Linked DNA regions of Homo sapiens. The protein of the gene in region 1 interacts with the protein of each later gene in a pairwise test. Each region holds a gene or a part of one and is shown in the gene's direction. Other genes may lie near its edges.

What was found.
Region 2: the proteins of CA8 (region 1) and INTS7 interact in binary tests that used the Homo sapiens proteins (3 or more experiments, as listed by UniProt).

The regions. Positions count from the first base shown.
Region 1 is NC_000008.11:60,268,622-60,281,077, reverse strand, and holds part of CA8 (carbonic anhydrase-related protein), read left to right. Parts: coding exon 1-30; intron 31-1,197; coding exon 1,198-1,389; intron 1,390-12,456. UniProt on the Homo sapiens protein: Does not have a carbonic anhydrase catalytic activity.
Region 2 is NC_000001.11:212,023,309-212,035,764, reverse strand, and holds the start of INTS7 (integrator complex subunit 7), read left to right. Parts: upstream 1-207; 5' UTR 208-327; coding exon 328-421; intron 422-10,082; exon of another isoform or gene 10,083-10,204; intron 10,205-12,456. UniProt on the Homo sapiens protein: Component of the integrator complex, a multiprotein complex that terminates RNA polymerase II (Pol II) transcription in the promoter-proximal region of genes.

The DNA.
Region 1 (12,456 bases):
AGGAGGGTGTGGAGTGGGGCTACGAGGAAGGTAAGTGGCCGCGAGTCGGGGTGTCCGGGGTCCCGCGGCGGCGTCAGTGTCTCGCCGAGCGCGGGACTCGAGTCCTGCTGCCGCTGCGCGCTCCGAGCACCCCCACGCCCCCTCTTTCCCACGGGGGTCTCTGCCACTTTCCCACTCCCCTGGTGCGTTTCGGGCGGGAGGCGCTCCAGGGAGGCGTGCTCGCCGCCTGCGCTCTTCCGCCGCCTGCGCTCTCACCCGGGAGCCTTCCGCAGGGCTGGCGTTCGCACCTGCTGCGGTCCGGAGGGCGGGCTAGCCTCCAAGCCGTGGCTGTACCTTTTATGTCTTCTGAGTAGTCAAGAAGAGCAGCGGTACATTTTACTAAACACCTGAGGAAGACAGTGTTAGCGTGAAGAATTCGTTTTTGGCTTGGAGACTTTGGGGAGAAAGTGTTTCTGCCTCTGGTCTTTTCGTGAAGCCTGCTAGCAATGCTCAAGTCTTTCTAAAACATGTCCTAAATTTCAGACTGAATCATTGGGTTTGGCGAGAAGCGGTTGACTTTCTGAAAAACTCGAGTTTCCTAGATTTATTCCTAAAGACCTAGGGCTCCTATTAGAGCCAACCAGTAGTGCTGATGTTTACTACATATGTTGAAACCAATATAGAATATATAATTTTAATTATAAAAAATTTGGAAAGACTATGGGAATATGTATGTACACAGATATATACATATGCACACTTTAAAATACTACACTTGCATTTCTGATAAGGGGCGTCTATTTACTAGCATGAGAGTTAGGGTTCTGACTGTCACTAAGTATGTTGAAAGTTACAGCTGTTTCCCAGGTACTGAACGTAATTGAACTAATAAGCAGAAGAAATTGTTCTGGTATTCTTTTTTCCTAATCACTTAAAAATGACCCAAATTTCCTAGAATCATAAATTATTATGTCTTTGTTGACAAATACAAATAGAATATTTTGCTAGTCCGGGATTTTGTGTATGGTATTTGATAATAACAGATCATTCAAATAATGAATGCAAAAACAAATAGAATTACCATATTTCATCTGTATAGTGATGGTATCATTACTCTCTTCATGATATCAAGGGTTCTAAGTGTTTAGTTTTTACATGTTAAATTTTACTGTAATTTATTTTTTAACCTGTTTTTAATTTATTTCATTTTGTTCTTAGGTGTTGAGTGGGGTCTGGTGTTTCCTGATGCTAATGGGGAATACCAGTCTCCTATTAACCTAAACTCAAGAGAGGCTAGGTATGACCCCTCGCTGTTGGATGTCCGCCTCTCCCCAAATTATGTGGTGTGCCGAGACTGTGAAGTCACCAATGATGGACATACCATTCAGGTTATCCTGAAGTCAAAATCAGGTATTTTAGAAAATATGTTTGTGTGGTCTTTTAAACTAGAAGTCAGCGTAGAGTTATTGAACTGTGATTTAACTTGCACAATTTAAAAAGTACAACTGACGTATCTCTATTTTCAGGATACCTTTGTATTATAATATAAAGCATTTTTGGGAATTACCTTCTGAAACAATTTTGAAAGGACAAAAGAGTGAAATTATGAAGATTATCAGTCGGTTGTTCTGCTTCTTATGATGTTACTGGAAAAACCTTAGTTTGATCACCTTATACCTTGTGAAATATGAGGACAGGTACATGCAGGTGCAGTAATCTGCGTTTTGTCCAAAATTGTTGATTAGCTTAAATCACTTAGATAATCATAATTCTCTGTTTTGCTACTTTGTGAAACCAAAGATTAGAATTTATTGACATAACGTGGCATTCAAGGTAGACTTCTCAGGTTAATTTTCTCTACTGTATTAGTTTGCCAAAAATAATTTTAACTAATAACAATAAGAAACAGCCTCTAAACTCAGCCAGAGATTTAAATGGTAAACAAACCTCTTCCTTTTATTTATTTATTTATTTATTTATTTAAGTTCCATCCCATGAAACTTCTCCTACCACTTGCAAACCTATTTGAGATGGATCTGAAATGTTCTGTGCAAAAGTTGTTAGGTAATTACCAAGGAAATCAGTTTTTGGCTTTATCGTAGGAAAGAGGAAATCAGATTTTTAAAAAATGTAGCATTAATAGCATGCATTTCATAGTGAATAATAACTGTCTTTTTCTTTTGGGAAAAATTAAAGTATGTTGAAATATTAGGACGTACTTGATAAATAGAGACTGTGCTCGAAAATTAATTCCAAGTTGATAAAGTTGATACCTCAAACTATAAAATCTTTAGGTTTGTTATTAATCAAGGCAGCTGTTGATTTCCAGCTATGGATTTATTTTATTCATTGTAAATGTTTCTAAGCTTTAATTTAGAATCCATGAGATAGTCATAGATTCATGTAGTCTCCTTCGCTGTTCTGAGTTTAGTCAGCATGTGAGCATTGCCCAAAAGAGTTACTGGGCTTTATATGTACTTAGTCAGAGTCAGTTTAAGATGGAAATTTCGACTTGAATTTTTTTGGGGGTGTGGGTTTAGCTTTGATGGGACATTACTTACTGTTTTTTAAAGGATATTGTAAAATTATTGAATGCTGACTGTTCTGGCATATAAAAAGCAATTTAAAGAAGTACATGTGTGTTGATGTGTTGAGATGCTTTGAACTTCCGGAAATAAATGTTTATATATCCACAAAACAAAAATACATTTCATGTCAGGTGCCATGATCAATATTGGTTGCATATAAATTTATAAGACAGTTCTTGAGGATTCATAGCCTAGTGAAAAGCCAGTTCTTTAAAGTACTAGTGTACACTTGATGTGGCAAGTGTTACAAAGGGTTGTGGGAGCAGAGAGCAATGACTAAGCACATATACTCCACTGCATCTGTGTGTGCCTAGTCCTGCTCTGAGATAAAATTTACTTCATCAATTTGAACTTACCATTTTCTTCTGCTACCTTCTCAAACACAATTTTCTTTAATCTTCTGCCTCACTCTAAAACAGAGACTATGGACCAACATCTGGGCCCTCTCACCATGAAGTGTGTTTCTTCCTCACCTAGCATTTTGTGCTTTTCTCTTCCTCCTTCTTCCACCCCTGCCCACTGAAGAAGAAGTGTCTGCACTTCTGTCTAGGCCTGATTTGGATACTCATGATCCAGAACCCTTTTTTCCTGCCTCCCTGGAGACCTTCCTCCTTCAGATTCCCCTTATCCTCTCTGTCATGGTAATAATTTCCTCCTTATTGTTCTTTCCCTTCCAATATTTCTGCAAACTCAAGAAAAGTAACCAAAATAACCATGTCTTGAGTAGTTGTTTTTTCCCCTAGGATATTTAAGCTCCTCAGAGGAACCATTTGTAAGCTCTATATACCCTGTCATTCGCTTATTTAAATAATGTTTTATCTTTATCAAAATAGAATATATACAAAATAGTTGAATAGGCTGGGTGTGATGGCTCACAAGTGTAATCCCAGCACTTTGGGAGGCTGAGGTGGGTGGATCAGTGGAGGTCAGGAGTTCGACACCAGCCTGACCAACATGGTGAAACCCCATCTCTACTAAAAAATCCAAAAATTAGCTGGGCATGGTGGCACACGCCTGTAATCCCAGCTACTTGGGGCGTTGAGGCAGGAGAATCACTTGAACCTGGGAGGCGGAGGTTGCAGTGAGCCGAGATTGCGCCATTGCTCTCCAGCCTGGGCGACAAAAGCAAAACTCCGTCTCAAAAAAAAAAAGGTGAATAATACTCTTTCTGCCTGTGGTTCTTTCTGCCTGTGGTTATCCCCTGCTCTTCCCCACCTACGGCTGCTGTTCCCTAGTAACAACTACTTTGAAACTTTCTAGCTGTTTCTCCTGTGGTTACCTCCAAGAATGTAAGAATATAATAATGCTGTTATGCTTTGGTAGTAAGCTATGTATGAACTCTCTACTATTGAAGACGAGGCCAATTTTCTTTCCTTTTTTTTTTTTTCTTTTGAGACAGAGTCTCGCTCTGTCGCCTAGGCTGGAGTGCAATGGTGCGTCTTGACTCACTGCAATCTCCACCTCCCAGGTTCAAGTGATTCTCTTGCCTCAGCCTCCCCAAGTAGCTGGGATTACAGGCGCCCGCCACCACACCAAGCTAATTTTTGTATTTTTAGTAGAGACGAGGTTTCACCATGTTGGTCAGGCTGGTCTCAAACTCCTGACCTCAGGTGATCCGCCCACCTCGGCCTCCCAAAGTGCTGGGATTACAGGTATGAGCCACAGCACCTGGACGAGGCCAGTTTTCTTATTGCCCTCTTTCTTATGATTTCACTCTCGTATTATCGCTGTATACTTAAATTAATTTTAAAAATCTGTATACATTTAGGGGGTACAAGTGCGGTTTTGTTTCTTGGATATATTGCATAGTGGTGGAGTCCGGGCTTTTAGTGTAACTGTCACCCAAATAGTGTACATTGTATCCATTATGTAATTTCTCATGCCTCATTCCCCTGGAGTCTACTTAAATTAATTTTTATTTAAATTAATACTCATTATTTTTATTATTACAACTGCAACTGTTGTTTCCAGCTGAGATTATATTTTGTCTCACTTAAACAGTGTTTTGTATTTTCCTGGAGTTAATGCATTTTTGTTAATTGAATTTTTTATCTGTCGGTAATTAATTTGCAAACTCTCTAACATATGACGGATCTTCTCTTAGGACATTAGCGTGCATCAGGTTGTCTTCCCTCCCTCGCTCCTCCTTGTCCTTTCTTTTTCCTGTGGAGGCTGCTTTTCTTTTCTGCTCTCCAGGCCTCTCCTAACAGCCTCTTCTCGCAGCTCCTTGGACCTCAAGCCTGGGAAGTCCCCTTGTTTGTCTCCTGTGTTAGATCGGATGTTTCCTGGATGCCGTGGAAGTCCCCTCGTTTGTCTCCTGTGTTAGATCGAATGTTTTCTGGATGCCGTGCCATCCTCTTTTTTGAGTTGCTCCGTCATCTCAGGGAATTTCTTGGTTTATTTGCTTGTACAGTTCATCTTCCAGGAACTTCCTGAGAAAAGGGGCAAGTGAGGGCTACATGCTTGGATGCCTATGTGTCTGTAAGTGTCTTTATTATACTTCACACTTGATTGGAGTTAGCCTGGAGCGGCAGTCTGGGTTGGAAGTATTCTTGACTTCGTTTGATGTTTGACATCATGATTACATTGCTTGAAGCTTCCAGCGTTGCAGTTGAAAGATCTAGCGCCGTTCTGCTTCTCAACCCCCTCTATGTGTCTCTTCTCTTTTTTCCTTTCTGGAACCTTTTACAGTGTTTTCTTTACTACTGTTGTTTTGAAATGTTACAACCATATGCCTTGGTGGGATTGTTTCTGCACTATATGCTGGGCACTTGGTAGGTTTTTCCAGTCAAGATAATTGTGTCTTTTATTTACCAGCAATTTTCTTATATTTCTTATATTATTTCATTGATAAATTTTGTATTTTTATTTTTTCCTCCTCTTTTGGTAACTCCCACTTTCTTCTTCCCTTTCTCTTCTACTTTCTAGTAGATTTCCTCAATTTTTAATCGTTTAGTCTTTTGATTGAACTCTTACTTTCTGCTTTCTTGTTTTTAATTTCTAAAACATTGAACTTACGCTGCAATTAAAAACCTTTTTTTTTAAAAAAAATACAACATCCAGTATTTATTTCATGAATGTATGATCTTTCTTCATTCTTTTCTATATTGCTTCTTTTCTATCCCTACCTGTCTCTGTTTACTCTGGGTTTCTTTTTCTATTTATATTGGCATCCCTCTTTTATTTCGGAGGTTCTCCTCAAAAGTCCAGTGATCTTTGGCTCTTCGTTCCTATTTAAGAATGAGTCTAGGAAGCAGATCAGAAGCTCTGTGCACCTGGGCAGGGATTGAGGGCTGTTGGGCTTCACAGTACCATGATCAAGAAAGGACCTGGCCATGTTGTTGGAGGAGTCTTTGTTGCTTATATTGGTTTATCTGGAATATGCTTGTTTCCTGTTTGTGTTTTTGTTTTGGGGTTGGGGATGGCTCAAGTTGGCCACCAGCTTTCTGGTTGTTGGCACAGACAGGAGACTATTACCATTTAGCAAGTCCACATTTCCTTCATCTTCTGCCAGGGATCTCATCATCATGCCTGACCATGCATGATGAGGTTTAACTGCTCCTTTTAAAAACTTTAAATCTGTTTTTCTGTTTTCAGTTTCCTACTTTGCACTGCCACATTCAGAAGTATCTCTAATGCTTCCACCTCCTGAGTCTTTTCTCGTGTCTTAGTCTGTTTGGCTACTATAATAAAATACTGTGGAGTAGGTAATTTATAAATAATAGAAATTTATTTGTCCTAGTTCTGGAGACTCGGAAGTCCAATATCAAGCTGCTGACAGATTTGGTGTCTGGTGAGGGCTCTTCCTCTGCTCTGTACATGGTGCTTCGGTGCTACGTCCTCACATGGTATGAGGCAGAAGGGTCAAACAGGCTCCCTGGAGCCCTTTTATAAGAGCCTCATCCCATTCTTAGAGCAGAGCCCTCATCCGATTTACCTGATCACCTCCTGGACATCTTATACTGTTGCATTGGGGATTCAGTTTCAACATGGATTTTGGAGGGGGATGCAGGCATTCAAACCATAGCATCTGGGTTCTGCGGTAGGAATTACCTGCCTCTTGTGGCCTTCTTCCTGTAGTTACTTAGCTTTTAGCTTTCTCTTTTTGCTGAATCACTCACTACCTTTGTCTGCTTTCCAGCACCACCCCCCTACCGCCGCCCATTATTTTGGGCATTTCTCTTTTGCTCTTGTTCTCCAGTCTTGTTCATGTTGCTCTGGCAAGTTGTGCCCTCTTCATTTAGTGAGAATTGAGGAGGGAGGGCAGATAAATGTTTTGAGTACAATCTTCCTTGTCTAACTGGAGGTACCCCCTGCAAATACAGTGGGCTGTCTTCTTAAATTAAAAAAAAAATCCACACAAGAAGCACAGTTCTTTTTAGAAATTAAAGCTGACTTCACACCACCACTGTGCTAAAACCTCAGCCCTCCCTGAGGCTGTCTTTGGCCTCAGTTATTTTGTTTTATTCTTTATTTTTGCTTAGTTTATATTAACAAATCATAAATAATTGCCAAAAAGGTTTAGAACAGTTGTAGTATAATTTAAATGCTTAAACTTATCAAACTAAAACTTCTAACATAATTGTAATGATATTGTTCCTGTATATATAATCCCATCTGGAGTTACTGCCTTAATATAAATTTGAGGGTTTTCAGGGGCATGAGCCCCTGCCCCCATCCCTCTCTGCTGGAACTTCTCAAGCCAAGGTCACTGATGAACTCATCATCCCCTAAATCCAATGGGCATTTTTATATTCTTACAGGACTTTAACTCTGCTGCACTGGAAATGGAATTTTTGGAAGTTTTCTCTCCTGTTAGTCTCTGGGCCACACAGTTCCCTGACACTTCTTCCTAATTTTGACTGCCTTTTCTCTGCTGGTGCTTCATCTTCCACTGTGCTTAAATAACAGGGTTTCTTAAGGTTTCCTTCTGAACCCTCTTCTCCTGCATGTACCCCATGAGCAGTGCATCTGCATAGACTGTGTGCTACTTTGTTCGTCTTCTTTTTCCCCATAAGAGAGCAAAGGAGCTTAGAAAAGGAGCCACAGTGATAGGCTCTCTGAGTGGCATGGGCCAGTGTAGCCTCCCATCTCAGACCCCTGGCAGGTGGGTGGGCAGCTTGAATAGCTCAGGGAAGGAAATCCATTTCTCACAAGAAAACCCATTTTGCTTTTGAGCAATTCCAAAAGTCAAAAAGTTCTATGATCTCCGCCATTGTCTCTCTTTAAGTCTCTGGACATATTTAGAACAAATATAATTATACTTCCACTTTCAAATACTGCAGTCATAACATGCAGTTGCCATTTTTCTTTTCAGACATTCTTAGTTCTTTCAGCTGTTGCTCACATGACAGCCTTTCATCCTTCAATACTTACTTATTGATAATTTACTATGGGAATTATAGACTCACTTGTCTTTTAGACCCAGGCAGATATAATACTATACATGAGAGCAACCAGGAGAGCAAGAGATTGTAAATAGCTACTGATCCTCTGCTTCATCTGCAGTGTCAATAGACAAGACAGTAGGGGCTGGTGGGGACTGCAGGAACTGGCAAGCTGCAGAGAGCAGGCCTACTTTGCCAGATGTTTAATGTGTCAGGAGAAACTGGAGATGTGCACCTGTGAACTAAACATACGTGTTCATTGGTTTCCTCTGGCCTGCAGGGTGAGGTTGGCAATCTTTGTTTCATCTTTTGCAAACAGTTACATGCTTTGGATAAGGTAAGTATAAATCAGATCCAAAGCCTGCCCTCAAGGAGGATACAATGGTAGGTCATGGAATATATTATAGCTATACAGGGAGAGATTATTTTTGGTGGAAATTCTTAGGGAAGGATTTGTGGAGGAAAGAGCATTTGAAATAATCCTTGATGGATGAATAGCATTTGGATATGGGGAGCCTGAGGTGTGTGGGAAGAAGGGACAGCTTGCACAAAGGATAAGATATGGAAAGTTCTAGAGGTTGTATGAGGAAAGGCCAATCCTTCAGTATGTCTGGAAGAGATTTGTTCATGATAAAGGGGGTTAACAGGAAATAGAATAGAGAGGGTATTATGGAGCAAATTCATGAGGGACTCTGCACAGAGGCTAAAGAGTAGAACCTTTCTTTTTTTTTTTTGTAGGATAAAGTCATAATTAGAACATTGCTTTAAGAAAATCAAGCTGGCAGCACTGAATGAGATGGGATCTGGGAGAGAGTGTGAGCCAGTTTGAAGGTTAGTACAAAAGACTCAACCAAAACCACAGGCATTGCAGTGTCAGTGGAAAAGGAGGGGAAGACACAGGAGTGATCTCTGCGATGCAATCTACAGAATGTCATGGGTCAGTTATGTGGAGCAGGGATGTGGAGGAGATCAGTGGAGAGAGATGGCTTGGATGGAGCCCCCGGTTTCAGATCCTGTCACTATTCTACCTCTGCTCTGGGCAAATTTCAAGGTAGCAGAGTCCCTCCCTCCTAACATGGAGTTGAAGCAAGCATCACATTCCAGGGTGATCTGACCAGACTATTGGTCCTATTATCTCCTAGAGCATGGAGAATTTTATTAAGGCTGCCACATGTATCATTTAGCTTCTCAGCAGGACAAGTGGGTCACTGTCTCTCAGGAATCTTGACATTTAAGGTACACAGGCAAATTAAAATTAAACATCTTTGCAGTGGTATAAAGAGGATTGTAAGCATAAAAAATAATTACAGATTTCTAGCCTGAGTGGCTTGATACTTAAGTAGTGAGAAAATGTGTGAGACTGCCCACACTTGTGCAGTAGTGTCACTCCAGCTGACTACAAGCAATGTCTTAAGGGTAATGACATTTTTAATCAACCATCATTATGGGAGAAATTGCCAATCAAGATAGGTCATTTGTGCCCTTCACTGTTTCTTATTATAGAAACTTTAATTAGGATATTTTATTTCTGGGTCTCTTGTAATTCTCAATACTAATTTTAGGATAGATGATGATGATTATTAATCCTACTTTTCCCCCCCAAACATGGCAACTTTTTAACAGTGTTTCTTGGCAACCTTGCTGATTTAAAGATGAAATTGTCAAAAATATCTTAAAAATTATTTTCACTGAAGAAGAGGCTCTATCTTTTTTATTTATATGAAATGTCAGGGCTGAACTTCTTTTTCCTTCTTTCTTTTCTCTCTCTCTGTCTCTCTTCTTTCTTTTTTTTTTCAGGCTCTCATTCTGTTGGCCACGCTGGAGTACAGTCATAGCTCACTGCAGCCTCCAAGTCCTGGGCTCAAGCAATCTGCCCACCTCAGCCTGTCTGGTAGCTGGGACTACAGGCCTGCCACCATGCCCAGCTAATTTTTAAATTTTTGGTAGAGACAGGGGTCTTGCTATGTTACCCAGGCTGGTCATGAAATCCTGGGCTCAAATGATCCTCCCGCCTTGGCTTCCCTTAGAACCGGGATTACAGGTGTGAGCCACTGTACCTGGCTGGATTAATGACTGTATTTATTATTGGCTAATTTTGGTGCATTTGAATTACCTGGTTAGTTCCTGTCATCTGCATCATTTTGCATGTGCTTCACTTTGCCCGGCCTGCTCTCTGTGCTATTGTTATGATCTCTACCCTTAAGAGCTGAAGATATTTAATAAAGCCATAGGTTAAAAGCCAAAGACAGTTTAAAAATATTGAAAAATTTTTGCTTTTAAGGCCTCAAATGTTAAAAAAAGAACTAAATGATACTATTTTGGGGAAGTTTTAGAGATAACATTGGAATTTCTTAAAAGTTACTTTGAGGTTATAAAGTCTTTAAATCCATTAAGAATGAACCCTTTGGAGCTGGGCATGGTGGCTCATGCCTGTAATCTACGCACTTTGGGAGGCCAAGGCAGGTGGCTCACTTGAGGTCAGGAGTTGAAGACCAGTCTGGCCAACATGGTGAAACCCCGTCTCTAGTAAAAATACAAAAATTAGCCAGGCATGGTGGTGCACACCTATAATCTCTGCTACTAGGGAGACTGAGGCAGGAGAATCTCTTGAACCTGGGAGGCGGAGGTTGCAGTGAGCCGAGATCACACCACTGCACTCCAGCCTGGATGACAGAGCAAGACTCCATCTCAAAAAGACGTATATAAATAAATAAGTAGGTAAGTAAGTAAATAAAATAAGAATGAATCCTTTGGATCCTTCGGGTGGTGTACCAGGGACCCACTGGTGTGGGGTTTCCTCTGTGTTGACGGTGTGGCTCTGCAGGCTTCATCTCCTGGCCTCACCATCTGTAACTGGGCATGATAGCAGCTTTCTTACTGGTTAGGCTTACCCTTTGTTATTCTGTCATCTGTGCAGATACTGCACGAATAATACTTTAAATTGCAGATATGATCATGTTAGTCCCCTGATTAAAAGCCCTCAATGGTTCTGGACAGGAGAAATCCCAGCTCGTAAGCATAGGCTGCATGTCTCCTCCTCATGCCCACCTTGACTGTAGCTAACTTTTGATTTTATTCTCCTAGAACACTCTTAAGCTGCTTCATGTCTCAGAATATTTCTCAGGCTCTTCGCTCTACTCTCCATGCACTTTTCACCTCTCAGCTTATTCAAGACTCAGCTGAGTTGGTATCTTCTGGGGAACATCTTACCTGACTTTATGATTCATGCTTGTTATTGGCTTGTCCGTTGCTGGATGCCCTCCTGCTACCCTTTCCTGCTCTTGATGTGTTCTATTTAGACTATTCAGTTTACTTTTTTAACCACTGAGACTGCCCAGTCAACACCAAGGCTGGATCTTCCTCGCTTTATACACTCAGTGGCCAGCACAGGGCCAGGTGTCGAGTTGATCTCAAAACTTAGCTTTGAAGTCAAATGAAAAGGAATAAGGCTTGAGCACTAGCCTTTGAATTATCTGGTAAATTTGTTTTCAGCAAAGGATTGTAGAAGCTTAGATAGATTTAGATAAATGTATATACATCATGTCTTTATAGGGTTTTCAGATCTTACAAAAGCTTCCTCAGGGAGCTCTTGTTTATGTCTTATAAATGCAATTGCCAAGCGTATTAAAGAGCATTAAAGAAAATGGAGGCTGTGGCAATGGCATCAGTTTATTTTATATTCTTTTCACAAGTTCCTTTTCTAAAAAAATTCAGCCTGTCATCAGTAGGAGTTTCATGTTCTTTCATTGTAACTTTATTGAACCAGATGACATCATAACTAATAAACCTGCCATGTAGTGACCCAATATCACTCAGCAAAATTTGATTTTCATAAATGTAGGAAAAGGCTACCCCTTCTGAGATGATTTGTTTTTTTATTTAAAAAAATGTAAGCAGTAAAAAGGGAGAATAATGCTGGAAGAGGGTTACCAGATGGATAAAATAGAAGCTGCTATTTATTTTTAGTCCATAAACACAATCATTCTTGGGGGATGAACAGGTAATGCTCTTACCTGGCACCTCGTAAAACTCTGAATTGAGAATTTTGTCATTTTTTATGGCATTGTATGGCTATATGACTTTAGTGTGGTTTATTTTGGATTATTCATCTGCAGCAACAGTGAAAGGTACCCAGAGCCTGGTTCCTGGCTGACAGCCACCTCTTTGTCACCTCTCCCTGGAGAACCAGGCTGGGGCAAAACACTTCCCTTCTCAGTGTTCCTTTCATACCATAGAATATAATTACTTTATTGTAATTGTATTGACTGTCATGACATGACAGTTAATAAACCTGTGTAGTAACCAGATAGGACTCAGAAAAAATATGATCTTGATAAATATATGAATTTACACTTCAGGATAATAGAATGTAAGATCTACAAGGCCAGGGAATTTTGTCTGTTTTGTCAAAATCAATGTATTCTAAATACTTAATACAGTACCTGGTACAAGGTAGTAGATGATCAAAACAATATCTGTTGGAAGGATTAGTAAACTTCCCT
Region 2 (12,456 bases), on another chromosome or scaffold:
CCCGGCCGCCAAACTCCGCGCCAAACTGACGTCACGCTCTCTGATTGGCTTCCGAGCGACGTCCGGGCGCCTCAGAGTCATTTCCCCCTTCGGATCCCCGCCTCCTTTTCTCCCAGCCGCGGGAACCTGGAGTCCAAGAGCTCCTTGAGCGCCTGCGCAGGGGGTAGCAGAGGCGCGGACAAACCGCGGGGTGACCAGGGCGCATGCGTAACAGGGCTTGACAGCGCGCGGAAGAAAAACCAGCAAGAAGGCGGCGGGGGAAGATGGCGGTCCTGGGGTAGAGTTTGCAAGCTTTCTGACTAGGCTAGTCGAGTAACTATTCGGGTCATGGCGTCAAACTCAACTAAGTCTTTCCTGGCAGATGCCGGCTATGGCGAACAGGAACTGGATGCCAACTCTGCCCTTATGGAATTGGACAAAGGTATTCGAAAGAGAGGGCTGAATGGGTGAAACAGGCGTGGGGGGAAGTGGCGCCACCAGGTGGTGGTTGCTTTGGGAGAAGACGGATAGGCGCATGCGCATGTCTTCGCTGGGCGGGGAGCGCCTGTGCTTTTGCTGGGGCGTGGGCTTTGACCCCTTCGGGAGGTTGCGGGAAATTTGCAGGATTGTGTGACTGGCCTTATACCGGCTAAACAAGTAGCGAGCTCTAGTGAGAGGCCCGTTTTGACCACTTGAGGGAGCAGTCCCCCGATTTTCTAAGCAGTGACAGTGGCTAGTTTCTAAGAGACACTGCAAAGAAATTGTGAAATTGGTTTTCAGTCTGTTCAGTTGAGACCAGGTCTTCATGAAATGTGCTGAATAGTAATCTTGCACCGACTTGACAGCGATTCATTTGATTTCCATAGCTCTGTTACCTGCGGGTTACAAGGCAGGCTAAACCTGGCCAAGACCATAAAAAAGCAAGGGCCCTGCTCATTCTCTGCGGACAAGTTCCAGGAGTTCTGTTGCCGTACAGGGAGCAGCTTGGTGTAGAGGGAGCTTTGGGGTTACACTGAGTTAAGTTTCAATGCCGCTGATTTTATGATTAACTTCATCTAGCCTCGGCTTGTCGTCTGCAAAGTGGGTACAGTACCATTGAGCCGGCAGAATTGTATTAAGTGACTTAATGGTATGCAAAAGAAGCATTTAGTAAATGCTGAAGAGATATACCTCCCTTCTTAGATGTGGATATGGGAGGCAAGGTCGGAAATTTGTTAGTAAAGAACTCGACTAGTAATATGAAACCTTTATTTCATATTGAGGATTTTTATTGTACGGGAAACATTTCGGCAGCTGGTATACAATTAAATCTTGATTAATCGTAGCCAATATATAATGTTGGAGAACTGGACTAGAACTCAGAAGGGTTTGAGCCACTTCCCAGTTTTCTGAGTTGGACATGTCTATTAACTTTTTTGGGACTCTTTTTCTGTTTATTTTTTAAACTGTGAATATTTTTAGTGGGTTAGTCTAAATAAGAGTTTCTCAGGCTCTTAAAAAAGCTTTTACCTTATTTTGATAAACACAAAAATTTCACAGCCCCCTAATGGGATATTCCTTTGGTTGAGTCTCAGTATCTTTAGTGCACCCCCATCAACCAAGAAAATTATGTTGAACTTTTCCTTCTCTTACCAAATCTTTAGGGGTTTTCTCCTCTGAAAAAAAAAAGTATAATACTAAATGTGTTTTTCTCTTTTTTTTTGGAGACAGAGTGTTGCTCTGTTGCCCAGGCTAGAGTGCAGTGGCGCCATCTCGGCTCACTGCAACCTCCGCCTCCCGAGTTCAAACGGTTCTCCTGCCTCAGCCTCCCGAGTAGCTGGAATTACAGGCGCCCGCCACCACGCCCGGCTAATTTTTGTATTTTTAGTATAGACGGGGTTTCACCATGTTGGCCAGGCTGGTCTCCAACTCCTGACCTCAGGTGATCCGTCCGCCTCGGCCTTCCAAAGTGCTGGGATTTACAGGCATGAGCCACCGCGCCCGGCCTTAAATGTGTTTTTCAAACACTTTCCTCCTCATTCTGATACATTTCTTTCTTATTCCTCAGTGAAAGTTACAGGTCAGGATAATATCTAATATCCCTACGAGTTCTAAGGACATTTTCTACCATTCTGGTGCAGCTGAGCTTGTCTCATGCTGACAATAGGATAGTGGTTGTGGAACAGGGATAAAGATGGGGCACTGAAGAGGAGTCTAGAATGGTTTAATTCCTCAAATTTTGCAGTTGTAAGAAAAAAACCACAATTTTTCCTTTTTAAAGAAGAGTTGAAATGAAAATATTTTATATCTATAGGAAAGAAATCAGGTGTCAATCTTAGACACAGAGTAAGTGATCATTTGCACTCCTCCCAGCAATGCCTGGCGTGAGTGTTTTACAGGTGAATCTCAGGCTCAGAAAGATGACTTGTTCTTTTTCATCTCATCTGTAGTAACTTTTAAAGCTGTTAGGAAATTAAGTTATAGAAATAGCCAGTTTCGTGTAGAATATAGTTGAGTATTTTAAATATTGAGTCATTTCATCTTGTACCTGTTAAAGTATTTCTGTTTTGTGAGCTAAAGGTCAGAAGGCTACAAGTTCCAACTCTTTTTTTCGTTCCCAAACTCCAAGGAATACTGTTTCTGAAATATCTCCCCCACCTCAGCATACACACTCAGACACATGACTTATTTGATCGGGCTTTGTACTAGGAACATGGCAGTTAATGAGACAAAACTCCTGCCCCTATAGAGCTTACATTCTAGACAGCAGATGCAGACACTCCGCAAATATAGCAAACGTGACAGTTAGTGATACATATTATAAAGGAAAATGAAGCAATGAAAGGGACTGGAGAAAACTGATCTGGGGCTGGAGTTGATTTCTTATTTTATGAAGTATAGGCAAGAAAGACCTCCTCAATCAAGTGGAAGAACAGCAAGTACAAAGGCCCTGAGGTAGAAGCCTCCTTTGCATGCAGTTATCTGGAGCAAAGTAATAGGCAATGAGTATAGAAAGATAACCAGAGTCAGTCGGGCGTGGTGGTTCACGCCTGTAATCCCCGCACTTTGGGAAGCTGAGGCGGGCGGATCACGAAGTCAGGAGATCGAGACCATCCTGGCTAACATGGTGAAACCCTGTCTCTACTAAACAAAATACAAAAAATTAGCCAGGCGTGGTGGTGGGCACCTGTAGTTCCAGCTACTTGGGAGGCTGAGGCAGGAGAATGGCGTGAACCTGGGAGGCGGGGCTTCCAGTGAGCCGAGATCACACCACTGCACTCCAGTCTGGGCAACAGAGCAAGACTGTCTCGAAAAAAAAAAAAGAAAGATAACCAGAGTCCCGTTCAGGTAGGGCCGTGCAAGCCATCAAAAGGACTGGCTTTCATTCTGAGTGAGAAAGGAAACCATGGAGGATTTTCAGCAGGTGTGTGACATGATCTGACTTTCCTTTGAAAAGTATCAGTCTGGCTACTGTGCTGAGAATAGACTGAAGTGGGGAGGGTCAGGGACCCAAGTAGGGAGACCAATGAGAAGGCAACTATAACAATCCAGGGAAAAGAAAATAGTGGCTTAGACCGAGATGGTGACACTGAAAATGTGTGAAGTGCTGAGATTCTGGATATACTTTCAAAGTAGAGCCAAGAAGATTTGCTAATGGATTAGATGAGGATATAAGAGTAAGTGGTCAAGAAAACTTAGAGGTTTTTGGTATGAGCTACTGGGAGGATGTATGTATTGTTTACTGAAATCAAATCAGTTTGGGTCATGTTAAATTTGAGATGTCTCTTAGACATCCAAATGGAGATGATTAGTCAGTTAGGCATAAGATGTAACCTTTGAACGCTATTTTAAAGAAATATTTTGTGGCACTGGTGTCCTTAGAAACACACTCAGGAAATGCTGCCATTCATAACCTGTTATATATTTATAACTGTTGTACTTTATTCTGAGCCTTTTGAGCAAGCATTGGCAGTAAGCTGATTGTTTCTGATCTCTATAGGAATAAGTGAATACTATTTTGAAGCTGACTCAATTCCATTACTTTAGGATGTAGTTAGTAACAGGAAAATCATCCTTCATGTGATAGCCATTCATTTACTCAACAGATATTTACTGACCACCTGCATTGTCTCAGGCTCTATACTCAGACTAGGGGCTATGTTGGCAAACAAGACATCTTTAAGGAGATTGCATACAAATGTAAGGAGATGGACAATGCTAGATCAAATGTGGTGCCGTTAGTCAGGACAAGAAGTTGGATTTTGTGCAGAGTGCAATGGGAAGGCATTGAAAGTTGTAGGCTGATGGCCATGCTGCTTGAGCTTCTGTAAGACTGAGCATACACAAGCAGAGTTAAGTGTCATAATCAAATACATTACAGCTTATGTTTATCTGACACATTTCATGATATGATCATTACTATACATAATTGGCAATATAAAGGATGCATCTCACAAAAATTAGTGTAACTTTTTCACTAATATAATTTCTTAGTCTAAACATTTTTAGATCAGCTGATGGAAGGTTATCCTGATGATTTGGGAAAACTTATGCAAGATCTCCTTCCCCCTGGGAAAAGAGGAGTCTCTTAAATGATATTATTCAGCCTATCTGCCTTCTGCAATGTTGACCTTGGAAAGGATGAGATGAAAGCAATGGGGAAGAGAGCAGTGACTCATTCCCTTTCTTGCAGCTGATGCAATGGGAAGGGAGGAAATATAGAGGATAGATTTGTTACTAGAGGTGCTGGTGAATGTAATGCTGTGTGAAAAACCTTGATGGTGTGCTTAATGAAAAATTTAGTTATGAAATAGAGAAATGATGTGAATCAGGACAACTGTCTCTGCACTCTAATTTCCCCCTTAGACGGTGTCACCTCACCTGTATTCCAAAATACCTGAATTCTCAGACCATCAAGAAAGTTTGTCAAGAAAGACCACAGATTGCTTTTACATTATCGATATGGCTCAGATGTTGTTGGTGTTTCAGTAAACAAATATGAGGCCTTTGGGGAAGTATCTTCATAGGCCCTCCTCAAGAGAAAGGCCTCAGCAGCCAGATTTGTTCCAGGTGACTAATTCCATACCATAACTGATTGATTCAGAAGTAGGCATGTGACCCACACTGAGTCAAATTCTTTCTCCTGAGAATCTCTGCTGCCAGACCACACTTAGTCTGAGAGTGTTGAGAAGCGGACCTATAAAATCATATAGAATTAGGCCGGGCGCAGTGACTCACACCTGTCATCCCAGCACTTTGGGAGGCCGAGGCGGGCGGATCACCTGAGGTCAGGAGTTCGAGACCAGCCTGCCCAAGATGGTGAAATCCCATCTGTACTAAAAATACAAAAATTAGCCGGGGGTGGTAGCAGGCACCTGTAATCCCAGCTGCTCAGGAGGCTGAGACAGGAGAGTCACTTGAACCCAGGAGGCAGAGGTTGCAGTGAGCTGAGATCATGCCATTGCACTCCAGCCTGGGCGACAAGAATGAAACTCCATCTCAAAAAAAAAAAACAAAAAATCATGTAGAATTGAAGCTAAGGTGAGACTCTGGGCAACTTAATGCAACATAAAAACCAGCAGCCTGGTTGGTAATTCCTTGATGGGCTATGAACTAATCCAAAAATTCAAGTTTTTACTGAAACCCACAGACTCATTCTTATATATAACTAAGATTTACTGTCTTGGAATTTGCAAAGTGGGTTATTAAATATTCCTAGAAGTTGGTATCCATAAACTCAAATTTGTTTAGAATTCTAGATTAGTATTCTCATGTGCATACTGGATGATGTTGCATACATCTTGCCATGTACGTTTACAGACATTTTCTGAAATTTGGGGGATGGATGCTGCCTTATTAATGCATCATTAGTTTTCACTGTCATTTTACTTGTTTCTATTTCTGCTTTTTAAATATAAAAATGGGCTTTGCCATCAATTTTTTAAGCTGTGGGTTGTATGTTTGTGTTCATGTTTCTACCCATGTCCCCCCACACACCTTTTATTAATGTATAGATTTTAAGATATGTTCGTGTTATGGTTCAATTTTGAATCATCCTCATCTCTTAGCTAAAGCAAATGTATGTCACAAATTGTCCTAAATTGTGTTTGTTTGGTAATGCTTTATTTGTGGTGTTCTTTGTAGTGGATGTTAGTTATGTTGATGGTTGCTTAATATATTTTGAACACTCTTTTTATGCTTAAGGAATGTCCCATATCATGAACCTTGTCTTACTAAGGTAGAAGCAAAAACTTATTTCCTAGTTTCCCTTGCAAGAGTGCAGGATCTGACTTAGGCTCTGCCAGTCAGACACACCTCCTTCACACTGTCTGATTTAGAAGTTAGAGATGCAAGAAGGAAGAGTTGAAGTGTCCACTCACAGTTCTGCCATGGCAGCAGCAGTATTTCTAGCTTACAGCAGCAACAACAATGGCTACGATATTCCTAGATGACAGCAGAGCTAATTGTTGCATCTGGTGTTTCCTATCAAAGACAGGGTTCTTCCATCCAGTTGGTTGGGTAGTGTGGTATTAGGTGTTCCTAGAAATTTAGCCTTAAAATTGTTTCTTAAGCTTTTAATAAACTCATTTTCTGCCTCATAAGCCAGAGTTAGCTTCTGTTGCTTGCAGCTAAGAACTGCTGATAGATGCTACTTGGAGATTTGTGCTGTTTTGAAAACTTGATTAATGTGTATCCCAAACCCCAAGTTTACCATAATTTATGGTATTCCCCTAATTCCCTAGAATTCATCACCTCAGAATTCCACCATTTAATCACTAATTTAAATGTCTCATTCTTGAATCTTAATCTCTTTCTTTCTAGTTGCTTGCTAGAGATGCATTTTAGCATAGTGGTTAGCACTATAGCCTTTGGAGCTACATTGCCAGAATTTGAATCCCAGCTCTGTCATTTGTCAGCATTGTTGTTTCTTACGCAAATTGCTTAGCTTGTCTGTGCCTGTTTCCTCACCTTTCAAATGGGGAAAATAATGGTACCTAATTTATGTGATTTTTAGTGAGACTTTAATACATGCAAAGTGCTTAAAGTGACTGGCACAGAATAAGCACTTCATGTGTATCATCATTATCATTATGATTAACTGCTATTTTGGCTAGTCTTTATTTTCATTCAGACCTCGGTATTTCACCTCTCTACATTTCTGTACCTGTTTTACTTCTTTGTTCAGCTTAGATTTCATGGTCCTTCATTTTATTAACTGCATTTACTTTCTTACCAGTACTTTAAATTCACATCCAAGGTTCCATTCTACTCATGTATCCCCAAAGGCAGTCAAAAATTGCTGCAGAAAGTCATACAGTGGGGTACATGGCTATCATCATAAATGGGAGCCGAATCTACACTGACCTTCAACATGGACCTGCAGTACTGTAATGTTTCTGCAGTACTACTATGTTTCTTTGGTCAGACACTTCTACCTTCTTCAGTAAGATTTTAGATCTTTTACTTTTCTAAAACCAGAGATCCTGGGGTTTTATGTGAAGTATGATTTGTAAAACTTGACAGTGTGTTCGAAACCTTTAAAAACATTGTGCCAGATAAAAGCATTCTGAGGACCAAATTCAGCAGCCTAGTAGTTTTCTAACTCCAGTATAATCAGTGTGGGCAGGCTAGTTAAATAAGTTATCAAGTGGCAGAAGTTAACTTGAGAATCTAGGTGCTGGCTGGGCGCAGTGGCTCACGCCTGGAATCCTAGTACTTTGGGAGGCTGAGGCGGGAGGATCACCTGAGGTTGGGAGTTTGAGATTGGCCTGGCCAACATGGTGAAATCCTGTCTCTACTAAAAATATAAAACTTAGCCAGGTGTGATGGTGCACGCCTATAATCCCAGCTACTCGGCAGGCTGAGTCACAAGAATCACTTGAACCCGGGGGGCGGAGGTTGCAGTGAGCTGAGATTGCGCCACTGCACTCCAGCCTGGGCGGCAGAGTGAGACTGTCTCAAGAAAAAAAAAAGGAATCTCGATGCCAACCTTTTCAAAGTAGTTAAACAGATGCCTGGGACTCTGCCCCATATATTTAGTAGGTTTGGAGTAAAACCCATAGCATAGATATTTTTCAAAAACTTAGCAGATATTGCTGATGCAGAACCAAGCTGAAAACCACTAGCCTGGCAAAAAGCTCTGCACACTTTAAGTGCGAAATAATGTTAGAATAATGAATGCTTTACTACTGCCAAATGAATTTTGAATGAATAAATGATTTTACAGCCTATTTTAGTTTCCCTGGTCTACATGCATGTTGCAACTGAGTTAAGCACTGTTTAAGTCCAGGCACAGAAAAGGAAGAGAGATCTGTTTTTGTTTTTGTTTTTTTTTGGTGGAAGAATACAAAATAAAATGTAGGTATAGCAATCACATCCCTCCTTCTTAATCTTATCTCTGGGCTTACAGTAGTATTCTTATGATTAGTGGTCTTATGACCAGGGCATTCTTCCTGTAGCAAGCAATACAAATAAAATGTCTAGCCCCTCTTATACTAGAACTGGAACGTGCTGAGCTCCTGTTTTCCAGTGCTTACAAAATTGGCCTAGAGCAAGCAAGATGAGTACCATACTACCCCAACCCAGGGCTGTTGCTAAGTAATAGGCCTTTAAAGCACTTTTTCCTTCTTTTTCACCTTAGCTCCTGTCCTTCGGAGCCAGCCTGAATTCTCACTACCTCTTTCCTAAGGAGGGCTCTTACATCAGAAAATACAGAAGAGGTTTAATATTCTTTAGTTCATTTACCCCGTGGCGTTGTTACAGAGGAATGAGAGTCTATTTTATCTCAGAGAAAAAAGTTTGATGATATTAGATAAATCAAAACATTCTCTCGCTTCATTCAAAATAATCTTTGGTACATTTTAAATCAGCATGTTTAAACAAATCAATATGGTCTTTGGTTCTGTTTTTCAAGGGAAGATAAAACATGATTATATTCTGTCAAGGAGACTACCTGTACATAGGCTGTTTCCTACTATGCCTTTTTCATCTCAGCCAAGGTTAATTCATTACAAACAGAACTTTACCATCCTTTGTATCTAACTCAGCTACTGACAGTGAGAAGAAAATGAAACAATCCAATTACTGTGGATTTTTTCAACCCCTTTGCCAACACATATACGTAAGCACACATCTCTGTTCCTTCTCACCTCCATCCTCAGCTATGTCTTTCCCCTTCTCTGCCCTGTGTGTCCCTTGACCCGTTTTTCATATCAGGCTTTTAGAAAAGTAAGGCTACATGAGCCACACTGCCAGCTACTTAGAATTATCCCTTTTGGCGTTGTGTTTGATAGGAAAAGGATTTCTAGAGCTTCAGAGGCAGTTCTTTGTGTGTGTAAGAGGGTGAAGGGGAGGAGGGAGCAGATGAAGGAGGGATGTGTTCTATCTCAGTTAGAAATGTTAATTAATTTTCCCATAGAAACATTTATTATAAATGGTTATTAGGTTCCAGAGTACTGTGAGTGCCGATAGTGCTATTATTTTCCTATGAGGAAATAATGTTCTAAGTACTGAATAACTAACATGAGTGCATTACGGAACATCACCCATTAGTAAATGATAGAAATTACCTATGCAGTTTTACTTTGTGGTTGTCTTTTGTATGAAACATTGTGGCAACTAGGAAAAGCCTTCAGATTTCCTTTGTCTTTTTGTTTTTTTTGGAGACAGGGTCTCTGTCACCCAGGCTGGAGTGCAGTGGCGTGATATTGGCTCACTGCAACCTCCGCCTCCCGAGTTCAAGCAGTTCTCATGCCTCAGCCTCCCTAGTAGCTGTGATTACAGGTGCCTGCCATCACGCTGGGCTAATTTTTGTATTTAAACGGGGTTTTACCATGTTGCCCAGGCTGGTCTTGAACTCCTGGCCTCAGGTGATCTGCCAGCCTCGGCCTCCCAAAGTGCTGGGATTACAGGCATGAGCCACTGTGCCTGGCCTCCTTTGTTGTTTTTTTTAAGAATAATCAAAGGTTACTGGACAGAGATATTCTAAGATACTTATTCCTGTGAGGACATAATCAGCATTTTGTGACTGGTAAAATACTAAACAGAGACATTTGAAATTGATGCTGTTAAATCCTTACCAAGGTATTCATTCTTAGTGAATTTTTTTTTTTTTTTCCTGGTACAGCTGTGACTCCAGGCAGGATCCAGAGAGGAGTTTTCCAGTCTCTTCTCTGGGTTTTGTAGAGACTTACTTTATCCTTCTATGTTAGCTTCTTAAAGCACCACATCAACCTTAAAAGGGCATAAGAAAGGGCAAATTCTTAATGCATTTTTTAGAAAATTGAATATTAACTCTTTTTTCTTGGTTGGGTTTTTTTTTTAATTTTTTAAATATCAGATTTAGTGAGGTATAATTTGTATCAGATAAAATTCACCAAATGTATGCAGTCATGAAACCATGACCATAGTCAAGACATAGAATATTTCCTTTACCCCAAAAACTTTCCTCATGCCCCTGTGCAGTCAGTTCCCTCTCTCTAGCTCCTGGCTACCACCAATCTGTTTTTTATCCCTATAGTTTTGCCTCTTCCATAATGTCATATAAAATAGAATGATACAGTAAGTTAAGTGTAGTCCTTCAGGTCTGGCTTCTTTCACTCAGCATAATGATTTTGAGATCGTTTTATGTGGTTAAAATAAGGTATGATTTCACAAATCACGCAGTTTATTACCATACAGAAAGAATTTTCCCTGCCTTTTTCACAATGTTTAGAGAGGGAGAATAACAAGAACACATCTCACAGGGAACACGTTTGATAGACAAAGTCCAGAAACCACATGTGAGTGAATACTAGTTTCATTTAGAGTCAAATTAGTAAAGTCTAGTTGCGCATTTAGGATGGAAACAGGCCTCTGTGAATGTAGTCTAATTGAAGTTTGAGGTGTACCTTTCTATGAGATGTTCTCTGGAGAGATGATCAGACCAACAGTGGAGATCCATGATGACAACAAGATTTTCAATGCTAGGAGCCATGTCATCAGGGAGGGAGATTACACTCCATGTTCTTATCACAGCAGAAAATTTCACTCACAATAGCAGACTATGTGTTTGTAATCATTTCAAAGCTGCACAACAGAGATCCACCTTTGTTGTTGTATGCATCAGTAACTGGTTCCTTTTTTATTGCTGAGTAGTAGTTCATTGTATGGATATACCACAATTTGTTTATTCATCCACTAGTTGATTAACATATGTGTTTCCAGTTTGGGGCTATTAATGAATAAAGCTGCTGTGAATATTTGCATACAGATGTTTGTGTGGACATATGTTTTCATTTCATTTGGATAAATAGCTGAAAGTAGTATTGCTATGTATATAGTATGTTTACCTGCATTAAGAAAGACCAAACAAAAAATAAAATGCCTAGGAATACATCTAACCAAGGAGGTGAAAGATCTCTACAACGAGAACTACAAAACACTACCAAAAGGAATCTTAGGTGACACAAATGGAAAAACATTCCATGCTCATGGATTGGAAGAATCAATATCATTAAAATGGCCAAACTGCCCAAAGCAATCTACAGAGTGCTATTACTATCAAACTATCAACATCATTTTTCACAGAATTAGAAAAAAAAAACTCTTCTAAAATTCATATGGAACCAAAAAAGAGCGTAAATAGCCAAACCAATCCTAAGCAAACTAACAAAACTGAAGGCATCACATTACCCAATTTCAAACTATTTTGTAAGGCCACAGTAACCAAAACAGCATGGTACTGGTACACACACAGTCACATAGACAGCAGAATAGAGAACCCAGAGATAAAGCTGCACACCTGCAGCCATCTGATCTTCAACAAAGTCGATAAAAATAAGCAATGGGAAAAGGACTCCCTATGCAATAAATGGTACAGGGATAGCTGGCTAGCCCTATGCAGAAGAATGAAACTGGACCCCTACCTTTCACCATATACAAAAATTAAGGTGGATTAAATATTCAAATGTAAGACCTCAAACTCTAAGAATCCTAGAAGAAAATCAGCATTGGGAAAGAATTTGTGACTAAATCCTCAAAAGCAATTGCAACAAAACCAAAAATGGACAAGTGGGACCTAATTAAGCAGAAGAGCATCTGCACAGCAAAAGAAACTATCAACAGAGTAAACAGCCTACAGAATGGGAGAAAATATTTGCAAACTATGCATGTGACAAAGGTGTAATATCTAGAGTCTATAAGGAACTTAATTCAACAAGCAAAAACCAAATAACCCTATTAAAAAGTGGGCAAAGGACATGAAAAAGCATTCTCAAAAGAAGACATACAAGCAGTCAACAAACATGAAAAAAATGCTCAGCTTCAGTAATCATCAGAGAAATGTAAATTAAAACCATAGTAAGATACCATCTCACACCAGTCAAAATGGCTATTATTGAAAAGTCAAAAAATAACATGCTGTGAGGCTGTGAAGAAAAGGGAATGCTTATATATACACTGTTGGTGGGAATATAAATTAGTTCAGCCAGTGTAGAAAGCAGTTTGGAGATTTCTCAA